Regions from separate parts of the Homo sapiens genome. Here region 1 is linked to region 2. The links come from fine-mapping of genetic effects on gene expression. A gene starts in region 2. The other region holds a variant in brackets. All regions are shown on one strand. Distances are between the middles of the regions.

Region 1 (9,001 bases), 130 kb after region 2:
ACAGATTTATTGGTAAACAATGTCTTTTCCAACAGTCCTTAAAAATTAACAGTGACATAATACTATGTTTCATCCAATCTGTGTAAGACAGTTGTTCAATGCACCTCTAAACAAAAATGTGAAATTGTAGGGGGCAGAGGTTGTGGGAGCCGAGATGGCGCCACTGCACTCCAGCCTGGAAGACAGAGCAAGACTCCGTCTCAAAAAAAAAAAAAAAAAAAAAAAGACAAAAATCCCAAAGGAAACCAGGACCTCATCCGAGATACTGCAAGGAGGGCCTCCTGCTTTGTGTGACATGTGGAATGCACTTGATGATTGGGGAAAGCTGGAGGAGGCTTGAGTATGTCCTGGCCACTCTCGTTGGGCAGGAAAAATGAGCAGACACAGGAGGACCCAGTGGGAACACCCACACTGCCTTTTTGTTTTGTTTTGTTTTGTTTTTGAGAAGGAATCTCGCTCTGTCGCCCAGGCTGGAGTGTAGTGGCGCCATCTCGGCTCACTGCAACCTCTACCTCCCGGGTTCAAGCAATTCTCCTGCCTCAGCCTCTGGAGTAGCTGGGATTACAGGCGTGTGCCACCACACTCGGCTAATTTTTGTATTTTTAGTACAGACAAGGTTTCACCATGTTGGCCAGGCTGGCCTTGTACTCCTGACCTCAGGTGATCCATCCACCTCGGCCTCCCATAGTGCTGGGATTACAGGTATGAGCCACCGCGCCCGGCCTGTGACGCTTCTTTATTAAGACGGAGAGCAGATGGGGTGTGGTCCCTGGGTCAGTGGCTTGTATCTGAACTGCTCAGAGGCAAGTTACTCACTGTAGCTGTCGGCTGGCCCTGGGAGGAGCTGTCTCTTCAGGATCAGGAAGGAGCCAGAGGTCAAAGCACCAGAAATACAGAAAATAAAAGACAAGGTTAATGTCACACTTTTCTGAATTTTAGAGTTCTCCTTATGCTTTTGTCTTTTTGATCTGTCATTTTTTTTTTTTTTTGAGACAGTCTCGCTCTGTCGCCCAGACTGGAGTGCAGTGGCTCCATCTCGGCTCACGGCAACCTCCGCCTCTCGGGTTCAAGCAATTCTCCTGTCTCAGCCTCCCGAGTAGCTGGGATTACAGGCGTGCGCCACCGTACCCAGCTGATTTTTGTATTTTTAGTAGACAAGGGGTTTCACCATGTTGGTCAGGCTGGTCTGGAACTCCTGACCTCAGGTGATCCAACCGCCTCGGTCCCCCAAAGTGCTGGGATCACAGGCGTGAGCCGCCTCCCTCTGCCTGATCTGTCAGTTTCTAAGAAAAGTGTTTCAAGTCCTTCCCCACCTCTACTGATATATCTACATCTTCCTGTGGCTCTGTTATGACATCATATATTTCGAGGCTCTGTTTTTAGTTGAATGTGGTTCTGCACTCTTTCTTTTTTAAATGTATTTTAAAAATTGTCAGGCCGGGCGCGGTGGCTCACGCCTGTAATCTCAGCACTTTGGGAGGCCGAGGTGGGCGGAACACCTGAGGTCAGGAGTTCGAGACCAGCCTGACCAACATGGAGAAACCCCTCTCTACTAAAAATACAAAATTAGCCGGGCGTGCTGGTAGGTGCCTGTAACCCCAGCTTACTCGGGAGGCTGAGGCAGGACAATCATTTGAACCCAGGAGGCAGAGGTTGCGGTGAGCCGAGATTGCGCCATTTGCTCTCCAGCCTGGGCAACAAGAGCGAACCTCCGTCTCAAAAAAAAAAAAAAAATTGTCAGACAGCTACACTGACTTTTTAAAATGTATGCTTCTATGAATATTAACACACATATAAATTCATGTCACTGCCAATACGGTCAGGGCCTGCAGTCGTTTCATTACCCTCCAAAAAACCTTATGTTCTCAGTGCTTGACAATCATGCATGAAGCTACTCTAAACATTCCGTGAAGGCTTTTGTGGGAACAAGGAGCGTTCAGAATGGGGTCGGTAGACCAGAGCCCAAGGCCAAATCCAGCCCTGGCCTGTGTTTGTACAGCCTTTGCACTAAGAATGGTTTTAAAAACTAAAAGACCCCAAAGGCCCATGTGAGGCAGGAGAGTGTGCAGCCCACAGTGCCTCACAGCTGGCCCTGGATGGGAAAAGTGGGGACCGTGGCTGAGAGTCCTGCGCAGCCTGCCCGTGAGGTGGTCCGGTGGACGCTGAAGCGCGGTGGCGTGAGAAAGGCGGGCCCGGTGCTGAAGCGTGTGTGCCCCTTGGCAGATCAACTTCAACCTCATCCTGCTGCTCCTGCTGGAGCTGCTCATGGCGGCCACGGTGATCATCGCTGCACGGTCCAGCGAGGAGGACTGCAAGAAAAAGAAGGTGGGTGCAGCTTCTGACCCCGCAGGGCAGGGGGTGCAGAGGCATCACCCCAGGGTGAGCGAGGTGGGTCTCAGCGTCACCCTCGGAGGGCCGATCTGGGCTGCTCCAGGGCATTCCCATGAGACCCCTCTCTCCTGGGTCTCAGAAACCCCGGCCAGGAGGGGCTCTGGAGCTGGGTGAGGGGTTGGCGGCCGCTGGCTACAGGGAGGTGAAGACAGATGCTGTACCCTCCCCTCCCCCTAAGCCTGACTCAGTCCAGTGCTCGTCCCCAGGGGATCACCAGGAGACACCACATCTGCTAATTTTCATATGCAAGGACAATGTGTGTGAACATTTCCTCAAGCCCAAAGATCCACGGGCGCCTCCAAGGCGGTCTCGCATCTACACGGCAGGCTGACCTGACCCACTGCCCACGGCGGCCGGATGCCAGCGGCAGTGCTGAGTCCCTGTGCCCGTGCACCCGGGGTGACAGTTCTGTTTCTTCGTAGGGCTCCATGTCTGACAGCGCCAACATTCTGGACGAAGTGCCATTTCCTGCTCGGGTCCTGAAATCTTACTCAGTAAGAAAACTTCCCTTCTTTCTCTTTTCTCTCATACTCTGTCGGGGGTGACTGAGGCTGGATTAAACGTCACGTTTCGATTCCGAGTTGGCGAAGAGTTGGCTGTCTACACCGCATGGCGGCGTGCGCCTCATCTGTGGAGACTCTAGTCTGTTATTGGTATCATTGGTAATAACCTTCCTTATCGCGAAAGGTGCTGCTGGTGTCCTGTAATTTTTAGGGGGAGTTTGTTACTGCCGTAGGTGAGTTGACACTGTTGTCCCCGAGGAATTTTTTTTTTTTTTTTGAGACGGAGTCTCACTCCATCAGCCAGGCTGGGGTGCAGTGGTGCTATCTCAGCTCACCGCCACCTCTGCCTCCCAGGTTCAAGTAATTCTCCTGCCTCAGCCTCCTGAGGAGCTGGGACTACAGGCACATGCCACCACGCCCGGCTAATTATTTTATTTTTAGTAGAGGCAGGGTTTCGGCATGTTGGCCAGGCTGGTCTCGAACTCCTGACCTCAAGTGATCCACCCACCCAGGCCTTCCAAAGTGCTGGGATTACAGGTGTGAGCCACCGCACCTGGCCTCTTTCTCCTTCTTACTTTCAACTTTTCTTGCCTTGTACTTTGGTATAATTGTTATAAGCAGCACGTAACTGTATTTTGTTCTTTATCTTGTCATTCTCTCTCCCTAGCTTTTTGAATGTAGCCCATTTCCTCTGAGAGTTATTACTGATAAATTTCTACTTATTTTTACCATCTTTTGAGTTTTCCATTTTCCCTGATTTTGCCTTTTTCCCTCCTTCCCTGCCTTCTTTTGAATTGGCAGAGGCTCCGTCCTTCCTTTTCCCTCTAATTTTGGATGGGAAATTTTTCAGTATTCTTTTGGGGGTTGCCCTTCATATTCTAATACGCTCCTTGATAAACAGACCATGCGGGGTCTGTCCCCCTTCCCTCCGCCTTGGCCTTGTTGTCTAGCTTGTGACATTTAGTGACATTTTGCCTTTTTACTCCAACAATGGGACAGCCTCCTGTGTGCTTGACTGTGTCTGTGTGTGTTTCCCAGTGCCTTCACTTCCCCTTATTTAGCATTTCAGTCCTCTCTTAGGTTCCATTTCCGTTCTGCTTCTTTTTTTTTTTTCCTTTTTTTTTGAGATGGAGTCCTGCTGTTGCCCAGGCTAGAGTGCAGTGGTGTGATCTTGGTTCACTGCAACCTCTGCCTCCTGAGTTGAAGCGATTCTCCCGCCTCAGCCTCCCGAGTAGCTGGGATTACAGGTGCCCGCCACCACGCCCAGCTAATTTTTGTTATTTTTAGTAGAGACGGGGTTTACCATGTTGGCCAGGCTGTACTCAAACTCCTGACCTCACGATCCGTCTGCCTCGGCCTCCCAAAGTGCTAGGATTACAGGCATGAGCCGCCGTGCCTGGCTGGGAATTCAGCTTTATTTGTGCATCTGGAGTTTTGTGCCTTCTGGACGCAAGGCCTGGCTGCCCAGGTCCCTTCCGGCCCCCAAGCCCTTGCTGGCCCACTCCTTATGCCTGGCTTTCCTGCTGGCCACAGCTCTGTGTTTGCGACTCACAGAGATCCTTCACGGGAGCAGGTTTTCGGGCGTGTGTTTCTTCCCCAGCCCTCCCTGAGTCTGGCGGTGCTGGTTGCGGCCCCTCCCTGAGTCTGGCGGTGCTGGTTGCGGCCCCTCCCTGAGTCTGGCGGTGCTGGTTGCGGCCCCTCCCTGAGTCTGGCGGTGCTGGTTGCGGCCCTGATGGTGCCGGGCAGATGAGTCCACAACCAGGGCTTAGGCCAGCAGGGTTCTTGGCTTTGTCCAGGAAAGAATTCAAGGGCGAGCTGGAGGTGACAGACAGCAGCTTTGTTTGCAGTGGCAGTATAGCAGGGCTCTCCAACCGGCAGGTGCCTCGAGCAGCAGCTCAGAGACAGCTCTGCCTCCTATTTATACCCACTTTTAAGTATATGCTAATTAAGGGGCAGATTATGCAGAAATTTCTAGAAAAGGGGTGCTAACGTCCAGGTGGTTGGATCATTGCCACGGAAAGGGGTGGTGACGTCCAGTGTTGCCGTGGCAATGGCAAACCCACATGGCACGGGTGGGTGTGTCCTATGGGAAGCTACTTCTGCCCCAGGCCTGTTTTCCCGAGTCCCTTCGATGGGGTCCAGGGTCTGAGCACCGCCGCCTGCCACACTGTGAGACAGGGAAGGGAGTCTGAGGGTCTTGGTTTTCTGCCCTCACCACTGTCAGGTCAATACCCTCAGTTTCTGTGGACAAAAGCAGCAGTGGGGGAAACACCTCTTTGGCTATTTTACTCCAGGAGGGACGTGAAAAGCCGCAGCTGAGGGCAGAGGGGGTCTGGGCCAGGTGAGGCTGGGGGTCCATCCAGGTGGGCTCCTCCACGGTTAGATCTGGGGCCAGCCCACTGGACCCTGCTCCTGGGGGTCCATGTCTGCACAGTGCATTCTGGGAATCTGGGGGTGTCTCCACTTCCTTATGAGCCGATGCTGTCCTGTCCCCTCCAGGTCGTCGAGGTAATCGCAGGCATCTCTGCCGTCCTCGGGGGGATCATTGCCCTGAACGTGGATGACTCAGTTTCAGGCCCACACCTCTCAGTGACGTTCTTTTGGATCCTAGTGGCCGTGAGTAACCCCTCTGGCCCGCCCGCC[G/A]CCGCTCTGGGCCACACTGCTCAGATCCTGCGTGGCTGGGCCCCGAGCTCAGTCTTGGTGCATTCAGACAGAGAGTCACCACAGAGGGTCCTCGCTGGCCCCCAACTTCAGAAGAACTGGGGAGTTAAGGATTAAATGAGTCAAAGTATTAACTGCTTTTATATTAGTTTGTGTGATTATTTTATATTATTTTTCCTGAAAAAAATACCAATTATTTTTATTATTCTAATCTTTTTAACATATGAATGTCAGGCTGTAGATGTTTATTATTCTATATAATTTTCTAATATATAATGCATTTATATTACACTATGTGTTTCATACAATGCAGCATATTTCTGTTATTACTTTACATTAAATGTTACTGCAGCAGATGTGTCACACAGCACCTGACACATGCCACATGCTCAATACATGGGCATTGTTTTATTTATTTTATTTATTTATTTTTTTGAGATGGAGTCTCACTCTGCCACCCAGGCTGGAGTGCAGTGGCTCAATATCACCTCACTACAACCTCTGCCCCTCCCCGGGTTCAAGTAATTTGCCCACCTCAGCCTCCCAAGTAGCTGGGATTACAGGCGTGGACCACCATGCCCAGCTAATTTTTTTGTATTTTTAGTAGAGACCGGGTTTTGCCATGTTGGCCAGGCTGGTCTTGAACTCCTGACCTCAAGTGATCTGCCTGCCTCGGCCCCCAAAAGTGCTGGGATTACAGGTGTGTTCCCTCAGAACAGTGAGTCTAGAGCAACCCCTCCACACCCCAGATCCCCTCACAGCCTGTAGCCCACCCAGAGCCACCACCCACCTGCCTCCGGACGCAGACCCCACGAGGTTCTCAGCACCTTGCCGCGTAGTGGCCTGCACACCGGTGTTGACGGCCAGCCCCTGGTTTGTCTCATGCTGTGTGGACTTTTAGATTTTGCCCCTGCTCTCTTATGTACATGAGCAGGAATGGTGAGCACCCAGCATCAGCTACAGGCTCCTCCTGGGCAGCAGTGGGGCTCTTCCTGAAGCTGCCGAGGCCCATGCCTGCCTGGGAGCAGTATGGCCAGGTGGACTGCCGAGAAGGGGCCCACGCCTGCCCGGGAATGGTATGGCCGGGTGGACTGCGGAGAAGGGGCCCACGCCTGCCCGGGAACGGTGTGGCCGGGTGGACTGCCGAGAAGGGGCCCACGCCTGCCAGGTGGACACATCCCATTGGCAGCAGCTGTGTTTCAGCTCCCTGTGGGGGCGAGTAGGCACAGAGCAATGCCCCCAGGGCACCAGTGCCCGACCTAGTGGGCTGCTGAGGCGCTCAGAGAGGGAAAGAGACCCAGGCAGGACCGAGCTGGGATAGAGCCACACCCCCGGAAGGGGTAGGACCAGGCCCAGCTACTGAGACAGAGAACTCACATGGGTGCCCACCCAAGCGGGTCTGTGACAGAGAGAATGACGCCTGCAGGTGTGTACAACTGACCCTGGGGTCTGAAACGCAGGGATTACATCCCGAAGCTGAGGGAGGACAGAGACCACATACCTCCAAAAAGTTGAGAATGAAAGGCACTTGCCCTACCCCCTTCCCTGTCCCTGCAGTCAGCCCTCATCACAGAGGCCCCTCCCATCCCGCAGACCCCTCCTGCCTCGGGGGTGGCTCTGCTCTCTCCATCTTCCCGGAGAGCACCCCCTGCCCATCAGGTGCTGCCCCCTGGGCGCCCCTAAATCCACCCACACTCCCAACCCTCTCTTCAGGGCAGGAGACCCCAGGAGGAGAGGAGAGCGCTGAGGCATGCGTGGTGAGGGACCCAGCTCCACCTGCCTGAGTCTGGCCTGGGTGCGGCAGAGGGGCCCAGGCCCTGCACCATGGGCTGGAGGCAGGTGCTCGGGGCTGGAGTTGGGGGCTGGGCTGCAGGCCTGGACCCTTCCAGGGCAGGGCCCTTGATTGAGCTGCCCCAGCCCCTATGGCTGAGCTTCCTGGCCCTCTAGGGCAGGGGCCGGAGTGGCCATGCTGGGTGAACGGGGAAACTCCCGCCCTCCCATGGCTCACTGGGGCCCTGAATAGGCCACCCTGAAGCCACCATCCCTTCCTGTGCCCTCACTGCTGCTTACAGCTAGAAGGCCCTTTCAGAAGCACCAAGCCCAGGAGAGACCCCTGTATTGACACCTCAGCCTCCCTGGCCAGGGCCACACCCACCTCAGCAGCTGGCTTGGGGCCTTTGCACTGGCAGCCCCTCAGCTCCCCAGTCTTCTCCCTGCTGCCCAGGCTCCCCTGCTCGGAGCCCATCTCTGTCCTGCCCACCCTCTCACCACAGCCCCTGGCTGATGCAGCCCCCTCCCCAGCAGGCCGGGCTGGGGTGCTGGCACCTGGACACCTTCGGGGAGATGAAGAGGATGAAGAGCATGCATCCTCCCTCTGCCTACATTGTGCGGAACTAAGGCAGGCTCCTCACAATAAGTGGGAAAAGGGCATTTCTTGGTTATAAAAAGGAAGAGGTGCCCATCCAACAGAGGAACCTACAGATCCCCCTAACCCAGTGAGTCAAGTCAGCGTCATCAGGAAGGGGCAGTCCACACCCTGGGGCACTGCAGAGTCTCCTCCGAGGCTCCCCAAGGCTCATCATGAGGAAATCCTGTCCCACACGGAGGCCCGACTGCAGCTGATGGGCTGCACCCCCCAGAAGCGACCAGGTAACGGAGGTGACAGAGGCTGAGGGACTCCCCGATTAACAGGGACCCACAAGGAGACTACGAGCTCAATGGCAGACCGAATCCGGATCAGGAGCAAACAAACAAACAGCTCTAGAAATAACATGACCAGGGCCAGGTGCGGTGGCTCATGCCTGTAATCCCAGCACTTTGGGAGGCCGAGGCGGGCGGATCACCTGAGGTCAGGAGTTCGAGACCAGCCTGGCCAACAAGGCGAAACCCCGTCTCTACTAAAAATACAAACATTAGCCTGGTGTAGTGGTGGGTGCCTATAATCCCAGCTACTCAGGAGGCTTGAACCTGGGAGGTGGAGGTTGCAGTGAGTCAAGATCGCGCCACCGTACTCCAGCCTGGGTGACAGAGCAAGACTCCATCTTAAAAAAAAAAAGGAGAAGAAGAAAGAAAAATTATTAAAAAATTAAAAAGAAAGAACATGATGAGGACAACTGGAAGAATCTGGGCATGGACCACATCGGCCCCACGTGGAGTCTCTCGAGCGTGGTCCTGCTTTGGGTGTGTGCAAGAGTGTGCCCTGGGCTCAGCCAGCACTCTCAGGTGTTCAGGCATCAGGCTATCTGGGAGAGCTGGAGAGAGCACAGATATGAATGTCAAGGACTCTGGTGATTTTGGGGCCTCAGATGCCCCCTCCACTGCTCTTGCAGCTTTTCTACAGGCTTAAAATTTTAAACCAATGGTTGAGGAACAGAGAGCACACAAAACCTCTGAGAGGCTACCCCTGCTTCCCTGCGGACCCGTCCCTGCCCCAGCTGCGCCTTTGG
Region 2 (11,488 bases):
GTTGTCCAGGCTGGAGTGCAGTGGCGCGATCTCGCCTCACCACAACCTCCAACTTCTGGGTTCAAGTGATTCTACTGCCTCAGCCTCCCGAGTAGCTGGGATTACAGGCACACGCCACCACGCCCAGCTAATTTTTGTATTTTTAGTAGAGACAGGGTTTCACCATGTTGGTCAGGCTGGTCTCAAACTCCTGACCTCGTGATCCACCCGCCTCGGCCTCCCAAAGTGCTGGGATTACAGGCGTGAGCCACCGCGCCTGGCCTGTTGTGGCTGCTAAATCATGCAGCCCTACAGCAGAAAGAGAACCTTGATTAAAACAAAAGCAAACAACCAACCAGAATGCACCACAGCTTTACCTGACACACAGACATATTCCACGTTTGGTCAACATCCAGCCACTGACCAGGCCCTGTCTGCACAGTCTGGGGCACGTGCCGGGCAGGCCCATGGGTGTAGAAACCACCAAGGCCCCTGCACTCCCACCCCAACCCCACGAGGAGTGTTTTCGGCAGGTCTTACACACGGAGGGGCGTGGCCTGCCTGCCACTGCGTCCTCGGGGAGGAGATGCAAAGGAGAGTCAGCTGCTATGGACACACATCTGTGAGCGCTCACCAGCAGCCGTCCCCCAGGGTGACTGCCCCCCAGGGGACATCAGGCAAGGTCTGGACACATTTTTCGTTGTCACAACTGGGGTTACTACTGGCAACCAGCGGGCCCAGGGCAGGGATGCTGTGTGCACACAGGGTGGACTTCACAACAATGCCAGCATTGCCGCTGGGCGGGGCCTCAGAGGAAGTCGTGGCCCCAGATCTTTCCCATCCCCCTGCAGGACAGGAAAAGCCAGAGGCCCACAGGCAGCCTCAGGGGTGGGCGGCTGGTGTCCCGGGCAGGACGGGGCTGCAAGACCAACAGACAACTACATTCAGGTGTTCAGGAGGAAGTGCTAGACGCCAGGTGGCAAGGTGACATCAAAAACTGATGGCTGGGGGCCGGGCGCGGTGGCTCAGGCCTATAATTCTAGCACTTTAGGAGGCCAAGATGGGTGAATCACCAGAGGTCAGGAGTTCGAGACCAGCCTGGCCAACATGGAGAAACCCTGTCTGTACTAAAAATATAAAAATTAGCTGGACGTGGTGGCGCACGTCTGTAACCCCAGCTATTTGGGGGGACTGAGGTAGGAGAATCGCTTGAACCCGGGAGGCGGAGGTTGCACTGAGCCAAGATCACGCCACTGCACTCCAGCCTGGGTGACAGAGCGATACTCTGTCTCAAAAAAAAAGAAAAGAGAACTGATAACTGATGGCTCACGTCAGACAGGAGCCAGCCTAGGACTCCAGACCAACGAGCAACTGGACCATCAGATCAGAAAGCCTGAGCAGGACACCGCGCACAGCTTGCGGCTCCTGCTTCTTCAGTGGCCATTTCCTCAGTCAAGTCTAAGTAGTTCCTTGTCATAAACTCCAGCAAACAGCTCTGGACACTGTCCCCAGCCTCAGGCTCAGGGACCCCCTCCCCCCCAGAAGCACCAGGCAGGGACCCTTCTCTGGTGCCCGTGGCCCTGGAGCCCCCTGCTGGTGCTTTGAGACACACCAGCTCCCGCAGGGCCATCTCTGGCTGCAACGAGGGCCTGGCCGGGCACGTGGGAGGGCTCAGCACAAGTGTCCTAACTGAGTACCAAATGCCTTTGCACTCAGATCCCTCCCAGTGGGCGTGACGCAGCTACTTCGCGGACAGGCAGCTTCTGAGGCTGCCAGGGACAGGCTGGACTTTCAGAAGAGGCCAAGGCGGTCATCTGGGTTTGTTTCTACCAGAATCCTAGCAGCACAGGCCCAAATCTCCTAGGACTCTAAGCAAGTGCGTGTAGACAGGCCGAAAGGCCCCCGGCATTACCTTATGAAAGTGGAAGCTACACGCAACACAACCGTGCATTGTTCATATTTGGGATTACCATCATAGAACACGTCGCGCACCACCGTGGACTCGGACGTGACGCAGGCGCCGGCCCGTGTGGTGGGGACTCCCAGGTGGAACATGGCTTCGCTGCATAGAAACTCCCGGATGCTTGACCGTAGGACCTTGCGACCGTCGGCCTGTCTGAAACCAAACACAGAGTTCACTACGTGGGCCGGTCAGGAGGTCACCCAACACCAGGATTCCGGGCAGCACATGGAAAGGAGGGAACGCGTGTAACGTGAGCAGCTTGCACGTCCCTGAAAACCGCCCGTCCCAGGTGACATCAGGTGCCTTGTGAGCCTCCAACACCGCCCAGTTCCAGCAACCTCACAGCCCAGCAGGTTGTCGGCACAGCCTCTGGTAAAAATGGGCCTGAACACACGCAGCAGCCCGTCTTCCTGCCCAGAACGAGGGTTCCGCAGCAGAAGCCAGGACTGTGTGACTGCACAGTGGGGACAAAGGGCCTGGGGCAGCCCTGCCCCATGGGACACAACAGCCTTTGCACCAGGATGGGTGCCCCGGTACGGGCCAGCTGAGGAATGAGCTCCTCTGTGCCTGCCGGGGCCCCCACACCCACAGTGGGAGGAGGCAGGGCAGAGAAGCCAGCTGCCCGCCCCGCAAAACCCGCCCGAGGCTCCGACAGCGCTGGCCTCAGGCCACTCAGCCACTTCTGACCCCCAGGTCTCGCATTCCCTTCCCCACAGGTCTTCGGGTCCCCGGCCTCGGCCTCATGTCCTGCAGAACTGCCGAGGCCAGGGAATCGGACAGGCATGGGGAAGGGGATGTGAGATCTGAGGGCCAGATGACTGCCCCCTTTTTCTTCAATTATTTTCACTGTGGTAAAATACACATAAAATAAATTTACCATCTTAAGCCACTTTTTTTGTTTTTTAAAGACAGGGTCTCACTCTGTCACTTGGCCTGGAGTGCAGTGGCACAAACCTGGCTCACTGCAGCACCACCCTCTCGCCTCAGCCTGCCAAGCAGATGGGACTACAGGCAATGCCGCCAAGCTCTGCTAATTCTTGTCTTACTTTTTGTAAAGACGGGGTTTATGTTGCCCACGCTAGTCTTGAACTCCTGGGCTCAAGCGATCCTCTCACCTTGGCCTCCCAAAAGTGCTAGGATTACAGGCATGAGCCACTGCGCCCGGCCCATCTTAGCCATTTATAAGTGTACAGATCAGTGCTATTAAATACGTTCATAATGTTGCACAACCATCACCCCCATCCATGTCCAGAAATCTGTCTTGTGAAACTGAAACTTTGTCCCCATCGAACACTGGCTCCCGATTCCTCTACTCCCTCCAGCCCCTGGGACCCAGAAACTGAAACTTTGTCCCCATCGAACACTGGCTCCCGATTCCTCTACTCCCTCCAGCCCCTGGGACCCACCATTCTACTTTGTCTCTATGAATGTGGCTCTCTAGGTACCTCATGTAAGTGGGATCACCCAGGATTTGTCTCTCTGTGACCAGCTTATTTCACTGCACCACGTCCTCCAGGTTCATCCGTGTTGTAGCATATCAGCATCTTCTTTCTTAAGGATGAATAATATTCCACTGTATGTACACATCACATTTAATCCATTCACCTGCTGATAGACACTTGTTCTGCCTTTTGGCCATGAATATCGGTATACAAATCTTGAGATCCTGCTCTTGGGGATATACCCAGAAGCAGAACTGCTGAATCATGTGGTGATTTAATTATTTGAGGAACTTCCACACTGTTTTCCACAGCAACTCTATCATTTTACATTCCCACCAACAGTGCAGAAGGGTTCCAATTTCTCCACAGCCGCAACACTTTTTAACTTACGATTTTTTTTTTTTTTTGAGACAGGGTCTCACTCTGTCACCCAGGGACAGTGGCGTGATCTCGGCTCACTGCAACCTCCGCCTCCTGGGTTCAAGTGATTCTCCTGCCTCAGCCTCCCAGGTAGCTGGGATCACAGGCACGCTCCACCATGCCCGGCTAATTTTTGTATTTTTTGTAGAGCTGGGGTTTCACCATGTTGGCCAGGCTGGTCTCAAACTCCTGACCTCAAATGATCCGCCCACCTCAGCCTCCCAAAGTGCTGGGATTACAGGCGTGAGCCACTGTGCCCGACCAACCTTTTATTTTTCCGAGACAGTCTTGCCCTGTCGCCCAGGCTGAAGTGCAGTGGTGTGATCTTGGCTCACTGCAAGCTCCACCTCCCGGGTTCAAGCAATTCTGCCTCAGCCTCCTGAGTAGCTGGGATTACAGGCACCCACCACCACGCCCAGGTCAACCTTTTTTTAAATAACTGCCATCCCAATGGGTATGAGGTGCTGTCCCACTGTAGTTTTGGTTTGCATTTCCCTAATGATTGATGACGTTGAGCGTCTTCTCATGTTATAAACTCTTCACGTGCTTATTGGCCACATCTTTGAAGAAATGTCTATTCAAATACTTGTCCATTTTTGAATTTTTTTTTCCTGTTGCTGAGTTTTGAGAGTTCTCTGTATATTCTGGATCTTAATTACTTATCAGATATATGAATTGCAAATGTTTCCTCCCATTCTGTGGGCTGCATTTTTACTGTTAATACTGTATTTTTATGCCTAATTTTTAAAGTGTTCATGAAGTCTTGTTTGCCTGTTTCTTTAGTTGCCTGTGCCTTTTGTGTCACAGCCAAGAACGCTGCCAAATCCAATGTCATGAGGCATTTTCCCTATTTTCTCTAGGAGTTTTAGCTCTTATGTTTAGGTCTTTGGTCCACTCTTAACTTCGTTCATGGTGTAGTTAAGGACCCAGCTTCATTCTTTTGCATGAGGATCCAGTTTTCCCAGCACCATTTGTTGAAAAGTCTTTCTCCATTGAATGGTCTCAGCACACTTGTTGAAAATTTGCTGACCATATATGTGAAGGTTTATTTCTAGGCTCTTTATTCCATCCCACTGGTCTATGTCTATCCTTATGCCAATGCCATACTGTTTTGCTGACTGCGGCTTTGTAGTAAGTTTTGAAATCAGGAAGCATGAGTCCTCCAACTTTCTTCAAGATTGTTTTGTCCATTCAGGGTCCCTTGAGATTCCATATGAATTGTATTACTTTTTGAGACAGGGTCTCACTCTGTCATCCAGGCTGGAGTGCAATGGGATAATCACAACTCACTGCAGCCTTGAATCCTGGGCTCAAGTGATTCTTCCACCTCAGTCTCCTGAGTAGCTGCAATTAGAAGCACACGCCACCATGCCCAGCTAATAAAAAAAAATATTTTTTTGAAGAGACAGGGTCTTGCTGTTTCCCAGGCTGGTCTCCAACTCCTGGCCTTAAGCAATCCTCCTGCCTTGGCCTCCCAAAGTGCTGGGATTACAGGAGTGAGCCACTGCACCTGACCCCATGTGAATTTTAGAATGGGTTTTTCTATTTTTGCAAAAACTGTCATTGGTATTTTGATAAGGACTATACTGAATCTCTTCAAAGAGTACCGTTGTCTTTCTAATATTAAGTTATCCAACCCACGAACAAGGGATGTTTCCATTTATTTATGTTTTCTTTATTTTCTTCATGTTTTTCAGTTTTCACTGTTCAAGTCTCTTCCTTCTCACAGCCACTTCAGACGTTAGCCTCAATCTTGGAGAACTGGTGAGGCCAGGGACCCCAGGACACGTGTGGGGATGTCAGGCAGGGCCTGAGTAAAGGTCAAAGGACTCCTTAATTTTTAGGAGAAAATATATTCTAGCAGCTCTCAGGTCTGAAAGCAGTGAGTTAATACTCAAGTCTTCAAACATAAAAAGTGTCTTCCAGCGACAGATTACTCTCATAAAAAAAATTGTCTTTTTAACTTTAAAATATCACCAAAAATGAAAACATAAAGTTTAAGATGATCGCCAAAAAGAAAAACAAAAATTAAAAAAAAAAAATGCTCACAGGACAAGCAGGCCCCAGGCTGAGCAGCATTTCCACCACGTTCCAAGGGTCAGAAACGCTCCAGTGGGCGGCCGGTGCTGTCAACTCTAAGCAGGTCGCTGGGGGTGGGGAGGGAGAGCCAGAGCCAGGTTGCCCTCAGACACAGAACAGAACGGATTTGGAGACGGGGGAGTGAGGAAGACCCTCAGTCTGAGGAGCTTGCTTGGGAGATGGAGCCCCGGGGAAGGGATGCTGAGGGACCGAGGGGCATTTCAGGTGCTGGAGGGGGAGGTGATGAGAGCACAGGGAGGGGCCGGATGAGATGCGGGTTTAGCATTTCTCTGAACATAAAATGTACACTTTCCTAGTCATTCACAAAAGCAGTAAAGAATATGGAGTAAGTACATTGTTTAGTAGAAAAGAGCAGAACAGACCCAAGCGCTGTCTATACACAGGAGGCAGGTGGCGCGTGCACGGCTCCCCGGTGGGCCTGGCGGCATCTGGACCCAGATCCTGCCTTATTAGACCACCTGTGTGCCCCCCCACAGAAATCTAAACGATGCCCACCTCACTTCGGGGTTAAAAAGGGCTGCCCGCAGGGAAGTCAGGGCCAGGCCTCCGTGAAGTCAGTCGCAGAGCGAGGCTGCTGGACGAAGCGGCCCGCCCCACGAGCGATCGGAGGAAGGCTGGGGACCTGCGGGGTTAGGGTTAGGGTTAGCCTAACCTCTCATCCCGGCTCCCGCCCCTGGGTTTGGAGCCCCAGCGAACGTCGGTAAACATGAGCGGCGTCCCTGGTGGAGCTGACTCCAAGGTCCTCGGCGGGTTGATAAGCACAGGGCGCGGGCGGCTGCCAGCACCGCGCTCCCGCGGGTGCAGGGGAGGCCCCACTTGGCAGTAGCCGCCGGACGCCCCCAACACCGCGCCGGGCGGAGGGAAGGGGCGCCCCGGCGGGGAGGACCCACCCGCGCCCCTCGCCCGCCCCGGCCCACCTGGAGAAGGGCGTGGGCCCGGCGCCCTTGAGCTGCAGCTCCCAGCGCTCGCCGGTCGCCGTGCACACCTCGCCCAGGTACATGGCGGCGCCGTCGCCCAGCTGCCCGGCGAACTGGCCGAATTGGTGGCCGCAGTAGCAGTGCGCGGCGGGCTCGGCGCCCGGCAGGAGCGCGTTGCCGCTGAAGAACAGCGCGGCCTCGGCCTCGGCCTCGCGCGCGGGCGGCGCGCCCAGGCCCAGCAACGCCAGCGCGGGCTCTGACAGCGCCACGAGGCGCGGCTGCCGCAGCGGGGTGGGCTGCACGCGGGTGAAGCAGGCCCCGGGCACGGGCCGCGGCGCGGACGGGGCGCCCTCGGGACCGGGCGGCGGCGCCTCCACGGGCAGGGCGCGCAGGGCGCGGTTGTCGAAGCGCAGCCCCGCCAGCCAGCGAGGCGCGGGCTCCATGGCGGCGCCCGACAACGTAGAGCGGGGCGCCGGCGACGGGGAACAGCGACCGAGGGGCAAGAGTCGGGCAGCCGCGAGCGAAGCCCCGAGCGCTGCCCTGTATACGGCCATCCGCGGCCCCGCTCCCGCCGGAAGCCAGCCTGCCCCGCCCGGAAGCCCCGCCCCGCGCGTCCCGCAACCCAATCGCCAGTGGGCGAGAGTGGGGCGGGTGGGGGGAGGGGTCGCGGTGTCTGGCCGGGCTCTAATTGGCTGCCTCGTCCGTCTATCCGCATCTCCCGGCCGGAGGGTCGGAGGCGTCCGGGGTGGCTGTCGGCGTCACGGGGCGCGCGCTGATGCGAACGGGGTGACAGATGGGAACGCCTCCGAGACCGCCAGCGACGACCCCGCTCGGGCAGCCCCGGATTTCCTCGGCTGCACCGGCGCCGGCAGCGGGGACCGAGGCCCGCGTCCGTTCGGGTCGGGCCGGGGCTTAGCCCCGCGCCCCACGGGCGGCCGGGACCCCACCCGGACCCCGCCGCGGTTCTGGGCCGCCGGAGCCTCGCGCCGCCTCTCGGGGACCTTGTCCCCTGGCCTCCGGCCTCTCGGGCCCCTCGCCTGCCGTCTAGGAGGGAAGGGGCCTTGGATCTGTGCCCCGCCCATGGAACAGCGCCCGGGCTCGGAGAGGCCCCGCGAGGCCGCAGGCGCAGACCCTCCCGGAGGGCTGGGCGGGCACCGGGGTCTTCGGCTGGCTTGAGGGACCCGACCCCTGGGGGAGGAATTTGGGGTCTGTGTGTCCGAATGAACGCGGGGGTTCAGATGAGTCTGTGGTGCCCCCGCTTTCCATCTCCTCCGGCCCCGGCCCCAGAGGACTGTCTGAGAGGCCGGTGGCCGCGGATCCTGGACGCGCCTCCCTCCTGCCTGTGGTTTCCCTTTATTCCGGCAGCGGCGCGAGCCCACCCTTCACATACAGGAGCTACATCCAGAAGCTTCTCCTGGGGCCACAGCGTGGGCTTCCGAGACTCTGCGTGACCCCAGCTCTGCCCCTTTGGGGCTGCGGGTGAAGCCCTCAGGACCCTCCGCGTGCGTTGGGCAGGTAACTGGATGAGGGATAATGTGGTGAGGTCCCCGTGCCCAACCCTCCTCTGCAGCCCACAGCAACCGTTCCCTCTTCAGCAGCCCCCTCCCCCCGGCCGCTCTGGGCGCCCGTTCCCAGCATCCTCCTTGGCAGGTGTTACCCCTCCCCATTCCCCAGGCCCTGGGCCCTCCTGATCTGTCTCCTCGACCCCCTGGGGCCCCAGTCTGGCTCAGTCTGGTCCACACTCTGGAATCTGGTGGGACTGGGTATGGAGGGTCTTGAGTGTCAGCAGGCCACCTGCGTCCCACCTGGTGGGTGAGAAGGGTCCCACAGGTCAGCATGGAGGGACCCGACTCTGTCTCTTCTGCTGGAAACCAGGCAGGTTCCTTCCCCCAGGGCCCCGGCAGGGCCACGAGTACCCGCTGCACTGGAGCACGGGGGAAGAGGCAGGGATCCTTCATTACCTGAACCCCATGTTCACACGTCACAAAACAGGAGTTTCCAAAATTAGAATTTATTTCAGTTTCTAAGGAATGAATCCCCGAGTGTGGCAGGAAGGACACAGCCGGCTCCTGACGCACACCTGATTTGATTCAACACCGAGTCGGCACAGACACAACCAGAGATGGCCTGGGTCCAGGCTGGGGCTGCACGGGCTGTGTCCTGGACAGCCAGGAGGGAGGCCCCGCACACAGACGGCCGCCGGGCAGGGGGCCTGAGCGGGACAGGCCTGGCCACAGCCCATGTCCTTGGCCTTCCACATAGGTGCACACATTGTCTGCCCAGAGAGGGCCAAGATGCCCCAGGCACCCCTTCGCTCCGGGGGCTCAGGACACAGGCTCCCAGCTGAGGCCACGCCTGGACCCAGAGCTGATGTTTGGCTGCACGCGAGCCCACTCGGGACAGACCCAAGAACACGAATTCTCTCCCTTTGGATTTAAGGCTGGTGTTTTTTGACATTTACTTCAGTTTTTCTCTCTGAAATTAAAATTACCTGAGTAAAAGATTTTAAGACATTAAAAAAGCCAAAAACACAGAATCCCTGCAGGCAGACGGTGCCAGGGAGGTGGCGGCCAGGGCCAGGATGCCAGGGGCACGGTGGGGTCGGCTGGAGCTCCAGGGCTGGGCCTTTCCCAGTCTCGCCTGCCCTGGAGCCCCCAGGAGCCGCCCCTGGGCCGACGCTCCTGTGGCCGGAGCACAGGAAGGCACAGTGAGGTAGGGACAGTGGCCATTGTCCCCCGCCTGCCACCAGGGCTGAGAGGGCAGCGCACGCCTCGGCCCCTCCTATAAGCCCCTGCCCCCTCGGAGCTGGGTGTCTTGTCCAGAAGCTGGGGAACGGCCCCTGCAGTGTGGGAGGGGAGGGGCTGCCGGGAGGCCTGAGCTCAGACAGTTAAATAATCCTTTATTTGGGTGGGCTGGGGGAGGGGTGACTGGCCCAGGAGGGCAGGCGAGGCCGGGCCCAGACCCCCATGGGGGGTGGCAGGGGCCTCGGGCGGGCTAGGATGCACCTGGCACCCAGAAGTGCCGCGGGGGCACTGGCTCCTCAGGGGCCCGAGCGGGCGGGGAGCAGTCTCCTACTTGTGCCGGGCCTCGGTCACCCTCTGCAGGCAGTACTGCGCGGCGGGCAGCGACAGGACCAGGCTCGCGGTGCGGCGGCCCATCCAGTACAGGCTGTAGCCCAGCAGGCCGAAGAAGGCGGCCTTCACGGCCAACCGAGACACTCTGCCGGAGACGGACGGCGGGGGCACGCTGTGGGAGGGAGGGGGCGCTGGGCCTGGCTGGGGGTGGGCTCCCCATACCCCAGCCCCCATGCCTGGGTCACTGCCGCATGTGGTTGGCCTCCAGGGCGCTCAGCCTCCACCTGGGGGCTTGTGGGGTGGGGCTTGCAGGGAGGGGCGGGCACTCACGTCATGATCTCCTGGATGTTGAGGTCGGTGCTCCAGTTCTTCTCGATGCCAGGCACGTGGCCCATGCCCACGACGCCCACGACCACGGAGGGGACGCACTTCCTGGGCTCGGCTGTGGGGAAGGACAAGGGGTCAGTACCTGCTCGGGCCTCAGCCTCACAGGGGGTCCCACGCCTGCGGGCGGCCGTCACCGTCAGAGGCCCGAGGCAGCTCGAGGCGCCGCGCGGCCTGGCGCAGCATGTAGGTTAGGTAGACGTCGCGCTCCGAGACGATGGTGCGGTGCAGGTCTGGGAACTCGCCAATCATCTCGGCCATCATCTGCTCCAGTAGGTCCTTCTGCTTGCAGCGTTCCACGTCATCCTTGCTGTGGAGAGGGATGGCTGCAGCCCCGCAGGGATGGGCAACGGGCTGGGGGGGTGGGGCTGGCACTGTGGACACCGGGCAGGGACCACAGCACGTTTGTTTGGGATTTGTGGCGGAAGGAAAGGGCAGGGAAGGCCTTGAGTGAGGATTGGCTGCGCTTGGACCTGCACAGGAGGGCCTGGAGCCTCCCACAGACCACCCTGCAGGCCGGCCAGGGTCCCGGGGGCAGCCCTACCTGATGGGGTCTGACAGGAAGCACAGGCCCCAAGCCAGCCTGACCTTCTGCCAGAAGGAGAGCGCTGCGATGGCCCTCTTGAAGGTGACGGGGATGGGTCGGTCACCCAGGTGGAACTTGCAGAAAGGCACCTTGCTGGCCTGGAGCAGAGGCTGGGTGTTGGGGAGCAGTGGGAACCCCGGACCACCCCTGTGAGCCACATCCCTGTGGCCACCCCCTACCTCACCCTGTGCCCACCTCCTTGAAGGCCTCCCTGAACTCGCCACCTGGGGCCATGCCCAGCTGCTCGGTGATGTGTGCAGACACCTTCAGCAGCAGCATCTGCATCAGCCCCGACATGAGCCCGTTCTGCAGAGAGAGGGAGCAGGCATCAGCTGGAGGGGCGGGTGCGGGGGTGCGCTGGGGGAATGGCAGAACTGGGATGGCAGGCAGCACCAGCGCAGAGCCCTGCCCCAGCCCAGTGCTGTGTCCTTGGCCCCCTCCCCGACAGGTGCAGGACCACCCTAGCGTGCAGAGGGTCAGACCAGAGCAGGGAGTTCTGTCCCAACAGGCACTTCTCAAAGGTAGCTCCCTTCAGAAAAGACCTTCACGGGCCGGGTGCAGTGGCGCACGCCTGTCATCCCAGCACTTTGGGAGGCTGAGGCAGGCGGATCACGAGGTCAGGA

Evidence for each region. PIP is the estimated chance that this variant, and not a neighbour inherited with it, causes the effect.
Region 1: its variant is fine-mapped to the expression of SELENOO in whole blood (TOPMed, PIP 0.97).

What each region holds. Positions count from the first base shown.
Region 1 is chr22:50,070,725-50,079,725 of GRCh38, reverse strand. MLC1 (modulator of VRAC current 1) reads left to right here. Exons shown (of 12, transcript NM_015166.4): 6 at 2,224-2,325; 7 at 2,814-2,885; 8 at 5,394-5,510. Among named protein-coding and RNA genes, the nearest start is that of MLC1, 10 kb to the left of the region's middle. RefSeq lists enhancers at 5,319-5,825, 6,145-7,026, 7,027-7,909. The variant G/A (reference allele first, on the strand shown) is at 5,538.
Region 2 is chr22:50,196,924-50,208,411 of GRCh38, reverse strand. It overlaps SELENOO (selenoprotein O), which reads right to left and starts at 7,401. Exons shown (of 9, transcript NM_031454.2): 1 at 6,822-7,401; 2 at 1,892-2,095. The coding sequence starts at 7,375. It overlaps TRABD (TraB domain containing), which reads right to left. Exons shown (of 10, transcript NM_001320485.2): 6 at 11,061-11,171; 7 at 10,824-10,963; 8 at 10,417-10,589; 9 at 10,226-10,337; 10 at 8,817-10,067. The coding sequence ends at 9,893. It overlaps TRABD-AS1 (TRABD antisense RNA 1), which reads left to right and starts at 7,629. Exons shown (of 2, transcript NR_186698.1): 1 at 7,629-8,336; 2 at 9,084-9,324. SELENOO-AS1 (SELENOO antisense RNA 1) reads left to right here. Exons shown (of 2, transcript XR_938352.3): 2 at 1-2,831. RefSeq lists enhancers at 372-936, 1,504-2,069, 2,070-2,636, 6,332-6,571 and silencers at 6,932-7,011, 7,142-8,081.